Homo sapiens: one gene and its partner. The protein of the gene in region 1 interacts with the protein of each later gene in a pairwise test. Each region holds a gene or a part of one and is shown in the gene's direction. Other genes may lie near its edges.

Evidence for each region.
Region 2: the proteins of MPRIP (region 1) and PPP1R12C interact in a two-hybrid assay, tested with the Homo sapiens proteins (one study listed by BioGRID).

What each region holds. Positions count from the first base shown.
Region 1 is NC_000017.11:17,037,690-17,045,649, forward strand, and holds the start of MPRIP (myosin phosphatase Rho-interacting protein), read left to right. Parts: upstream 1-4,767; 5' UTR 4,768-5,063; coding exon of another isoform or gene 5,064-5,159; coding exon 5,160-5,282; intron 5,283-7,960. UniProt on the Homo sapiens protein: Targets myosin phosphatase to the actin cytoskeleton. Required for the regulation of the actin cytoskeleton by RhoA and ROCK1.
Region 2 is NC_000019.10:55,090,192-55,093,694, reverse strand, and holds the end of PPP1R12C (protein phosphatase 1 regulatory subunit 12C), read left to right. Parts: intron 1-461; coding exon 462-542; intron 543-618; coding exon 619-679; intron 680-826; coding exon 827-912; intron 913-1,032; coding exon 1,033-1,073; intron 1,074-1,150; coding exon 1,151-1,253; intron 1,254-1,368; coding exon 1,369-1,473; intron 1,474-1,785; coding exon 1,786-1,836; intron 1,837-1,994; coding exon 1,995-2,045; intron 2,046-2,136; coding exon 2,137-2,223; 3' UTR 2,224-2,777; downstream 2,778-3,503. UniProt on the Homo sapiens protein: Regulates myosin phosphatase activity.

The sequences.
Region 1 (7,960 bases):
ACTCCTGTAGTCCCAGCTACTTGGGAAGCTGAGGTAGGAGGATCACTTGGGCCTGGGAGGTCAAAGCTGCAGTGAGCCCAGATCACACCACTGCACTCCTGGGCGACAGAGTAAGACCCTGTCTCAATAGCAATGACAAAATAGATTCGTGCACTCCAACAGATACACAATTCCATGGGAGGCCCTGGAAACCTGTAGCATTCACACATTCCTCCAGATGAATTTTATTATCAATGATTAGCAGAAAAAGGGCGAGATGAGAGCCCAGCTCTCAGGTGTGGAGAACTGCTTGGCAGTTTCCCATCAGGTTAAACATTCACTTCCCAAAACTTAGCCATCCCTAGTCTTGGGTATTCCCAATAGAAATAAGTGCTTGGCCGGGCGCGGTGGCTCATGCCTGTAATCCCAGCACTTTGGGAGGCCGAGGCAGGCAGATCACGAGGTCAGGAGATCGAGACCATCCTCACACAGTGAAACCCCGTCTCTACTAAAAAAATACAAAAAAAATTAGCCGGGCGTGATGGCGAGTGCCTGTAGTCCCAGCTACTCAGAAGGCTGAGGCAGGAGAATGGCCTGAACCCAGGAGGCGGAGCTTGCAGTGAGCCAAGATCGTGCCACTGCACTCCAGCCTGGGCGAAAGAGCGAGACTCCATCTCAAACAAAAAAAAAAAAAAAAAAGAAAGAAGTGCTTATGTCCACCAAAGACAAGCACGAAGATACTCGTAGCATTATTCATAATGGCCCCAAACTGGAAACATCCTGAATGTCTATCCACGGGAACATGGACAGATAAATTGTAGTATTTCCACACAAGGGACTACCAGGCAGCAATGAAAAAGAATGAAGTACTGATATATACAGTAGCCGTGTGGATTGAATTTCACAGGCATACTGTTGAATGAGAAGAGCCAGGCATAGCTCGCAGCGGATTCCACTCATCTATGGTGATGGAGATCAAAATAGTGGTTACCTCTGGGTATCTGTGTGTAAATTCTGCTCCCTAACAGGACACAGGGAAAACTTCCCAGGATGGCAGTCAGAGCCACAAATCAAGACTTACCTGCATTTGGGGCTCACCTGAGCGGCCTTTTCTTGCTTGCTTGCTTATTTGCTTTTTTGAGATAAACAATATACATTGAGGTGTACACAATGCAGTGAAAAAAGCATACAGCCCAGTGAATCTTTACATGTTTACACTGAGTATTGAACTTCATGCAAAGTGCTGTTCTAGGCCCCTGGAAAGGGAAGCCAAGGTTATGAGACACAGACTGTGTCGGTATGGATTTCATAATCTGGTGGAGGAGATATTACAATACAAGGTGGAACGATGACTTTTCATCCATTCACCCATGGGGTGTTTTTCTTGTTTGTTTTGTTTTTTGAGACAGAGTCTCACTCTGTCGCCCAGGCTGGAGTGCAGTGGCACGATCTCGGCTCACTGCAAGCTCCGCCTCCCGGGTTCATGCCATTATCCTGCCTCAGCCTCCCTAGTAGCTGGGACTACAGGCGCCTGCCACCAAGCCTGGCTAATTTTTTGTATATTTAGTAGAGACAGGGTTTCACTGTGTTAGCCAGGATGGTCTCGAACTCCTGATCTCATGATCCGCCCGCCTCGGCCTCCCAAAGTGCTGGGACTACAGGTGTGAGCCACTGCACCCCCATGGGGTGTTTTTGAGCCCCTGCTCTATGCCAGGCACTGAACTAGACAGGGGAAATGGAGTAGCAACCAAGACCCCACTCTACCGTGAGGGTTTTGGAGAGGAGCGCAACTAATTGATTCTACCTCCTAAACATTTTCCAAATTCATTCCCTTGCCTCCCACTGACCCTATCCTAGTCAGGCTGCTACCCTCTCTCCTCTGCAGCTCTCTCAGTCCTTGCCCCTGATTCATTCTCCAGATCAGCAGCCCTTACCTAAGTGCTCAGCCGAAAAAAATTCAAAATTGATGACTGCCCCTGGCCCAGGCAGCTCCGGTGCTGGCCTGTGTGGGCTCAAATCTTCACTTGTAGGATCTATAATTGTGACCACAGGCAAGTTCCTGATATGTCCTGAGCCTCGTGTGTGTCTTCTATAAAATGGAGATGAAATAGTATTAACAACAAAAACCATACCTGTCTCCCTGAAGAGGCTAGGCTTGCACCATCCACTACTCCTCCCAGTGCCTCTCAATGCTGGTCACTCCTGCCTCTCTGAACTACCCAGTGATAGAAAGCTGCTTCTGTTCATGAACACACCCTTTGGTTTCAAGGCCTGAGACTCTATAATTGGTGCCCCAGTTTGACGTGTCTTTCCCTTCACCTTCTCTGGCTGGGTCTTACTCAGCTCCAGACTCGGCCTAGGCATTGCCTCCTCCAGGAGCCTTCCCTGAAGCTGCCTACGGGGCTGGGTGCCCCTGTGTGGGCCCCCACAACACCCCGGATTGAACTTCTCTGTCTCCTGTTTCTGTTTGTCTCCACTTGCTTGAGTGTGGGCTCCTGCCGGGCAGGCTGCCTCTGAGTTGCTGAATGAAACTCTTCTTTGCGCCCCTACTGTGGACCCCTCCAGTCCAGTGCAGGTGCTGGATGTGCCTACTGACCTGAGCAGAACATGCTGAGCACTTTAAGGGAGGTGGCCTTGAGGAATGGGCAGGACATCAAGAAAGAAAATATATATATATATATATATATATATGTATGTATATATATATTTTTAAACAAGTTGTACATGCAGACAATACTAAATTCAGCAGAAACAAAAGGGATTGCAATGAAAATTAAAAGTAGGTCACCTCTCAACCACCCAGCTCCCCTCCCCAGTGGCCACCTCTTCTATCAGTTTCTGAGTATTCTCTGCAGGGCAGAATTGTCAGTCTTCCGTCCCTTTTTTATTTTGCAAAAATTTAAAGCAACAGAAAAGTTGCAAGAATAGTACAATAAGGCCGGGCGCGGTGGCTCACGCCTGTAATCCCAGCACTTTGGGAGGCCGAGGCGGGCGGATCACGAGGTCAGGAGATCGAGACCATCCCGGCTAAAACGGTGAAACCCCGTCTCTACTAAAAATACAAAAAATTAGCCGGGCGTAGTGGCGGGCGCCTGTAGTCCCAGCTACTCGGGAGGCTGAGGCAGGAGAATGGTGTGAACCCGGGAGGCGGAGCTTGCAGTGAGCCGAGATCCCGCCACTGCACTCCAGCCTGGGCGACAGAGCGAGACTCCGTCTCAAAAAAAAAAAAAAAAAAAAAAAAAAAAAAGAATAGTACAATAAACACCTTTTGCCTAGATTCACCAATTAACATTATGCTACTTAACAAGCATTATATCATTTAATGTTCACATTAATTAATTAATGCCAATTTTGTACATGAGGTCACTGAGGCACCAGGCAGGTTAAGGGACTTGCCCGAGGCCACAGAGCTCCTGCCTGGTGGAGCTGGGCTTTCCCCCTTAGGCTGCCAAAGGACTTTGATCTGCCTTCCCACAGCTCCCTTTTGAGGAAAAGCATTTTCTTACACTAAGTTGAAATCCACCTCCCTGGGATATTTACCAGATGATCCGTGGAAAAGTACACAGCTCTGGAAGCATTTGCTACTTCTCCTCCTAAAACCTCCTCCATTCCCTGAGCGACAGCTGCTGTGGCTGCCACTACCACATGCTCCAATGTCACCTCCTCCGTGAAGGCTGGGTTAGCTCACCCCCCTGTTTAAAGACTCACCATGACTCCCAGCTGCCAGTGGGATGACATGTGCACGCCTGGGCTTGGAATACAAGGCCTGGGTGATAGAGCCCTCTTCCAATCCCTCTTGCTCCTTCTTCCCCTATCTCCACTTCCAGCCACACTCAACCCTCTCACTGTCCACTTAAACTTCCCCTCCTCCTTGAAGCCACCCGAATTTTTCTAAAGAGCGCATTTCTCCCCTCTCTGGGCTCCTGCAACCTTCTGCCTGAGCCTTTGACAGCCTTTTCCAGGTTGTCTTTTGGCCAGGAGGCTGGACAATGGAGGACGGGAGTGACAGCTCGGCCCCTTCCTAGCAGAGTGATCCTACACAAATTACTCCAGGTGTCTGACCCTTCATTTCCTCAAGCACATCATGGGGGAAAGAATGCCTAGCTCAGCACCTGGCAGAGAGTCAGCCTTCGCTCATCTCCCCTAATGGAGCTGACAGCTCTTCAAGTCCGCTGACATCTTCTCTTAGTCATCCCTTGAAATACTACCCGCTGTTACTTCTCTGCTCCTCAGTCTCCTCCTATGTAAAATGGGGATGAGAAAGGAGAGGTTGCGAACCTTTAATGAGCGAGCCCTTGGAGTATCCAGCCCTTCCCGACGCTAACTGACTCCTACGAGGGGGCCTGGTACACAGTAGGTGCTAAACTAATCCTCTCCGAGCTGGGCTTGGGGAAGATGCCTCCGTTGGGTGTACAGCGTGGGCGCGGGAAGGCGAGCCTGGGAGCGAGGGGGTTGCAGAGAGGCAGCCTGAGGTCGGCTCCGCCTTCCCCCGCATCCCCCGCCCGGGCCCTGCAGCTGTCAGCCCGGCCGGCCTCGGCGCCAGTCCACCAAACCTGAACGTCCCATGCCGGCGCCCCCACCTTCCCGGCCTGCACAACTTACCTTGCGCTCGGCGGCCCTCGGTCCCGCCCCCGACTGCCATTGGCCCAGAGGTTCCTTTGTTAGCGAGAGCGCGCCAACCCCATTGGCCGGTGGGGCTGCCGATCGCGTCGGGCGCGGCCCCGCCCCGTACGCCCCGGCACCTCCCCGCGCCCGGCCGCCCGCCCGCCCGCCCGCCCGCCCGCCCCCGTAGTGCGTGAGGCGCTCCGGTCCCATTTGCAGCGGCCGCGGGGCGCCGAGGGCAGCTGCGGCGGCGCGGACGAGCCGGGACGGCGGCGACCGGAGCCTGAGAGGCGGGCCGCAGCGGGAAGCAGCGGGCCCGAGGCCGCGTCCATGGGCCCGCGGCGGCCGGGCGGCGGCGGTGCGGGCGGGAGCTGGGCGTCGCGCGCGCTGTGAGGCCCGGGCGGCTCAGGAGCCTCGGCGCGTGCAGCGAACCGCCCGCCGGGAAGGAGGCCGGGCCGGGCCTGCGGCGGGGCCGGCGAGGGATGCGGCGCGGCCGCGCTGAGCCCCTAGCCCGCCGGGAGCGCCAGGCCGGCCAGGCCTGCGCCGCCGCCGCCGCCGCCGTCGCCGCCGCGCCGACCATGTCGGCAGCCAAGGAGAACCCGTGCAGGAAATTCCAGGCCAACATCTTCAACAAGAGCAAGTGTCAGAACTGCTTCAAGCCCCGCGAGTCGCATCTGCTCAACGACGAGGACCTGACGCAGGTGAGCGACTGGGGCCGGCCCGGACACCTCCGTTCTGGGAGCCGCGGGTCGGCGGCCGGGGCGCCGCCAAGGGCTGCAGGGAAAATAAAAATGGAGCAGGGAAATGCGCGAGTCCTGGGGCATGGGGACGGGGACGGGAAGTGCATTGACAGAGCTGGGACAAAGGGAAAATCCTCGAGTATGCCGAAAAATAACATCCTTTCCCGTTCCCATTGCCCGGCTGTGTGATTCATGCTTTTTGGGTGACTCAAAAGTGCCTGGTTTCGCTTAGTAGGAACAAAGCGCTTAGGGATTGCATGCCGCTTGACGGGACCCCCCTGAGATTCTGGCTTGGGACTGGACTTGGATTTGTCCAGCCAGAGTGGCCCAGGGGTCGGATTGTTGGGGAGGACTGTGGGCTTCCGTCTAGTGGGACGCAGCCTGCCCCGATTCTGAATCATCGTCACTGTCAAGCACTGGAGAGAGGTGAAGGGGTGTCCAAATCTGGCGAGGAGGGTCTTGTTCTTGAACTTAGTTTGGCAGGCCGTAGTTTAGCGGGGAGCTGGGACCAGTTCCCTGGTCACTGGCCGAGGGGTGAGGAGACCTGTGGGTCCTCGGGAAAGTTGATTTCTGTCTCCCAGCCTTAACTGTCAAACAGGGCTTTGAACTAGTTATGACTCCCAAACGTGCATTAGAGTCATAGCCATTAAACACAGAGTTCTGGGGCCCCCGCCCTGGAGTGACTGGGGAGATGGGGAATTTGTATTGATGAAAGGCTCCAAGAGGCTTGGCTGCAGCCCCCATGGCCCTTGGGAACCCCTGCAGTGATTGCTGTTTGAACTCCTAGTGTTCCAGGATTCCGAGCCTTGTGTGCACCTCCTTGGGATGTGCCTCGGTACCCTCCCCACGGCCATCATCTCCATCCTCTTCAGAGCTTTCTCTCAGCCTCCTGAATGAAGCCAGGGGAAGTCCCTTCACATTCCAGTCCAGTGTGACCTAGTTGTAGCCACTCCTGTCGCAGAAGAACCCCTTAGACTGAAAACGAGTGAACGGGCCTGGTTGTTTTTAATGCCACTTCAGTGCACCCAGGGTTTGACTTGTTTACATGGCCGACTGGAGTAGGGTGGTGGGGCAGGGGTTACGGCCTGGGGCACGGGGCCTTTCTCTGAGGTCAGGTTTCCAACTGCCAGGAAAAGATTCCTTTCATCTAAACCCCAAAAGCTTAACGAAACACTCAAGGCTGCAAAGTCATAGATGGTTAAGATACCAAGGGTTTTAAGGACGGTCAGCTTGGGACGGATAGAACTCATTTACCTCGGAGGGTGTTTTGGAGTGTAAAGGAGAACTTGATTCCTTCTTCTCATCTGGATGCTTTTTTGGATGAAACAGTTTATGCGATGAGGAGTTGTTAGGAGACTTTGCTTCAGGTCTTGGCTGTCACTTCCAGCTGTGTGACCTTGAACAAATCCCTTTACTTCTGTATCTTTTAATTTCCTTATCTGTAAATTGGGAATCCTGGTCCCTGGCTTACCTCCTTCACTGAGCATTTGTGAAAAGCAAGAAATGATATTTTATGAAACTTTTTTCTCTTACAATTTAACAAACCAAAAAAACCTGCCACTTTAAGAAGTTTCTGGGCAAGGGTTGTTCTGAGAGAGGTTTGTAAGTTTCCTGGTTATTCTAAGCAACTGTCAAAATTGGTAAATTTACACCTCATAGGGGCTGTTTTCGAATTCTTAAGCTTAGATAAACTAGGATGGAATCTGCATGTTTGAGTCCAATCTGCTAAGATTTTTTTTAATCTGTTGATTATTAATTGGATTCACGGGGAGAGGCAAACTTAAAATACTGTACTCTCACTGTATTCAAAGTTGAATTGTGGGTTTTGAAACAGGCCTGAGACCTTCAGGGCACAACTGGAATGGTAGTTTCTGAAATAATGAGTGGGGTTATTTGTGCTGGGAGAGGTTAGCCCAGCATTCTACCTCCTGGGATCTTTCAGGAAGAAACTGCTCTTGAAAAGAGAGGAGGGAGACTCAGGGCTGTTGCCAACAGCCTTCTCTGCTGCTCTCTGCATCCGGCCCTCCCTCTCACTCTCATCCTTATGGCTCCATTAGAAAACCTCAACCAATCGGTTCCCATCAGTCTCCCCCAAGCCCCTGCTTCCTGCTGCCCCTCCCAGCCTGGAGCTTATTTTAGACCGTCAAAGCTGGAAGATACATCAGCCACCATCGAGGCCACTCCCTCCTTAAGAGGAGAGGATACTGGGCCCAGGGAGGTGGTGGGCAGCCTTGGCCGGCTTTTGCTCTGGAGATGTCATCTTCCCAGGAGCAGACATTTCTCTGAGCCTTTTGGTTTGAGGTTTATTTCCTCAGCTGTGGGTTTTGTTTGTTTGTTTTTCCCCTAGAGAGGCACAGAAACCTCTTGCAGGGACTGTATTATGGCATCAGACCTGGAAGGGACTTGGAGATCAGCTAATGTAACCACTTCCTCTTACCGGTGAGAAGATTGAAACCCAGAGAAGGGAAGTGACTTGCCCAGTTCAGGGATGGAGCCAGGATTCTGAAGCCAATGTTAGTTCCCCTACTCCTGTTCAGGGTCTACAGTGGCCACACCATGAGCACATGATGAGGACAATAATGTCAGGGATAGTTATGTTGCAGGAGGTGCCTTGAGAATGCTGGCTTGGAGCAGTGGAG
Region 2 (3,503 bases), on another chromosome or scaffold:
TGAGGGAGGAGGGGCTGGGGCCTGGGCTCCTGGGTCTGAGGGAGGAGGGGCTGGGGTCTGGGCTCCTGGGTCTGAGGGAGGAGGGGCTGGAGGTCTGGACTCCTGGGTCTGAGGGAGGAGGGGCTGGGGCCTGGGCTCCTGGGTCTGAGGGAGGAGGGGCTGGAGGTCTGGACTCCTGGGTCTGAGGGAGGAGGGGCTGGGGCCTGGACTCCTGGGTCTGAGGGAGGAGGGGCTGGAGGTCTGGACTCCTGGGTCTGAGGGAGGAGGGGCTGGGGCCTGGACTCCTGGGTCTGAGGGAGGAGGGGCTGGAGGTCTGGACTCCTGGGTCTGAGGGAGGAGGGGCTGGGGTCTGGGCTCCTGGGTCTGAGGGAGGAGGGGCTGGGGCCTGGGCTCCTGGGTCTGAGGGAGGAGGGGCTGGGCCCTGACCCCAGCGTCCCCTGACTGTCCCCTTTCCCTGCCAGGGTGTGACTCTTACAGACCTGAAGGAGGCAGAGAAGGCTGCAGGGAAGGCCCCAGAGTCAGAGAAGCCGGCGCAGAGCCTGGTGAGAGGGGTCAGCGAGGGCGAGTGGGGTGGTGCGGGATGTCCTGCTTCCCTGACTCGCCTCCCCCTCCCGACAGGACCCTTCCCGAAGGCCCCGCGTCCCTGGAGTGGAGAACTCTGACAGCCCTGCCCAGAGAGGTGAGGTCTGCTCTCGGGGAGGTCATTCCCAGGGAATCATCCAGTTTCTCCCATAGTCTTCTTGCTTTCCTGGGGGCTTGACCCGGGGACCCAGGCACCGAGAGGGGGCTCTGGAGGTGCCTGGGCTGATTCCTGCCCCTCCCCCAGCAGAGGCGCCCGACGGGCAGGGTCCGGGACCGCAGGCGGCCAGGGAGCACCGCAAGGTCGGAAAGGAGTGGAGGGGGCCTGCGGAGGTGAGGGGCTCAGGTGGGGCCGAGCTGGTGCAGAGGGTGGGCCGGGGGGCGGGCAAAGCCCTTCCCATACCCGCTAAAGTCCCTCCCATACCCATTGAACCCCCGTCTACCTGCCCACAGGGGGAGGAGGCGGAGCCGGCTGACCGCAGCCAGGAGTCCAGGTAGGGGCGGGGTGGGAGAGGTGGGGTCTGCGTGCGGGCCGGGCCGGCCCCTGACGCGCGCTCCTCCCCTGCCCCAGCACCCTGGAGGGCGGCCCCTCGGCCCGCAGGCAGCGGTGGCAGCGGGACCTCAACCCAGAACCTGAGCCAGAATCGGAAGAGCCAGACGGAGGCTTTAGGACGGTGCGATCCCACCCCTCCGTCGGGGCTTTGCCTGCTGGGTGCCCAGCTTCCTGGCTTCCCCGCCCCCCCAGCATCGCCCCATCCTCCACCTGACCCTCCTCTACCTGACCCCCAGCTGTATGCAGAGCTGCGCAGGGAGAACGAGCGGCTTCGCGAGGCCCTGACCGAGACCACGCTGCGGCTGGCGCAGCTCAAGGTGGAGCTGGAGCGGGCCACGCAGGTAAGGGCGCCGAGGCCAGGGTCACGGGAACTGGCAGGGCCGCCTGGGTGGGGCTTAGACTGCTGGGAGGTAGAGCCTGGCCTGGGGGTGCCGGCGGGGCTGGGCTTCACTTGAGGGGCGGGGCCGAGATCTCGGAGGCGGAGTCTGAGCGAGGGGATGGGGCTGTGGGCCTGCCGGTGGCGGGGCCTGGCCCGTGGGGGAAGGGCTTGTGGGCTGCCTAGTGGGCGGGCGGGTGCCCAGCAGGAGCCTAGGACCCTTCAGAGCAGTGCTGGCTTCTTCTGCTGACCCCTGTGCTTTCTGTGTCCTCACCAGAGGCAAGAACGCTTCGCTGAGAGGCCAGCCCTCCTGGAACTGGAGAGATTCGTGAGTAGGGGCAGTGGGGATGGGGGCCAGAGGCGTCCCCAGCCTCACATCCCTAAGTTTGGACCAAGGGAGCCACATTGCCCTTCCCAGCTGGCCCCTGGCCTTCCCCTGCCCTCCTCAGCCTCACTCAGTTTCTGCACTTTCCCTGTTCATTCCAGGAGCGCAGGGCCCTGGAACGCAAGGCCGCAGAGCTGGAGGAGGAGCTGAAGGTGGGGGCTGTGGGGGCTGTGGGCAGAGGGCCGAGGGTGGGTGGGGGTGCAACCCGCCAGGGCTGCCCAGCTGACCCTTGCCGTCCCCCAGGCCCTGTCTGACCTCCGCGCTGACAACCAGCGCCTCAAGGATGAGAATGCAGCGTTGATCCGCGTCATCAGCAAACTCTCCAAGTGACCCGGAGGGACTTTCCCGCACCCGTATTTATACAGCTGCTTCTGCCACACGCACCCCTTCCCCCGTGTGAACACGAGTGACAGGGCTCCGGGGGAAGTCTCAGAGAAGCCATAGCCCCCCTGGGACCTCCGGACTGGGAGGGGAGCAGAGTCCCCAGGAGCCGAGGGGGCCACCCGAGGCCAGGATGGAGGTGGGAGGCCGAGCCAAGCAGGGGGACGTTGCCAGAGGGGACCAGGGCCAGAGACGGGACCAGGAAGGAACTGAGGACCAAGAAGTGCAAGGATCAGTAGCCAGGACCAGAGTGGCCGCCTGGAGGTCCCCATCTCACGTGTGATGCCACCCCGTCACCCCTCCCCTCCTGAGCAGGGATCCAAGAATGTGCCAAGAGTCCCGCCAGCCTCAGCCAGGTGGGCCTGTATATAGGGTCCATGTGCAATAGGGAGGGACGTCTTCTATTTTTTGCTGCCCCCTCCCCGCCCACTGTCTGGGGCAGGGGGAGAAGGTATTTTCGAGATAAAGCACAGGCACCACAAATAAAAGTCGTGAAGTTGCCACTCAAGCTCTGTGTTCCCAGCCAGAGGGAGGGCACTGTTTCCTGCTCCTGCTGGGGGGCCGTGCGTGTCCATGACCAAACCACTGGGCCACTTGGGTGGGTGCCGGGGGATGGGCTGGTGCTTACTCACCTGTGTGGTGAAGGAGCTTCAGGATGAGCCCCCAGCGGGAGCGAAGGCTCCAAGACGGAGCCCGCGTGATCGCAGGCGGGGGGCTGAGGGGAAGCTGATGGGGCAGGAGGGATCAGCGGGCAAGACCTCTGGGGCCAAGGATGTGGAGCTGGGGAGTTTGGGTTTTGCCATCAGTGTCTTTGAAACAAATTTAGTCAATTGCCAACATTTAACATTTGGAGAAATTTGTGTGTAAAAATCTGGAATTTTGGCCGGGTGTGGTGGCTCACGCCTGTAATCCCAGCACTTTGGGAGGCCGAGGCGGGCAGATCATTTGAGGTCAGGAGTTCGAGACCAGCCTGGCCAACATGGTGAAACCCCTTCTTTACTAAAAATGCAAAAATTAGCAGGCGTGGTGGTAGGTGCCTGTAATCGCATCTACTCTACTTGGGAGGCTGAGGCAGGAGAATCGCTTGAACCTGGGAGGCAGAGGTTGCAGTGAGCCAAGATCGAGTCACTGCACTCCAGCCTGGGCAGCAGAGCGAGACTCCATCTCAAAAACAAACAAACAAACAAAAAACAAAAAGAATTTTGCCTTCTTTTGAAAGAACAGGAATC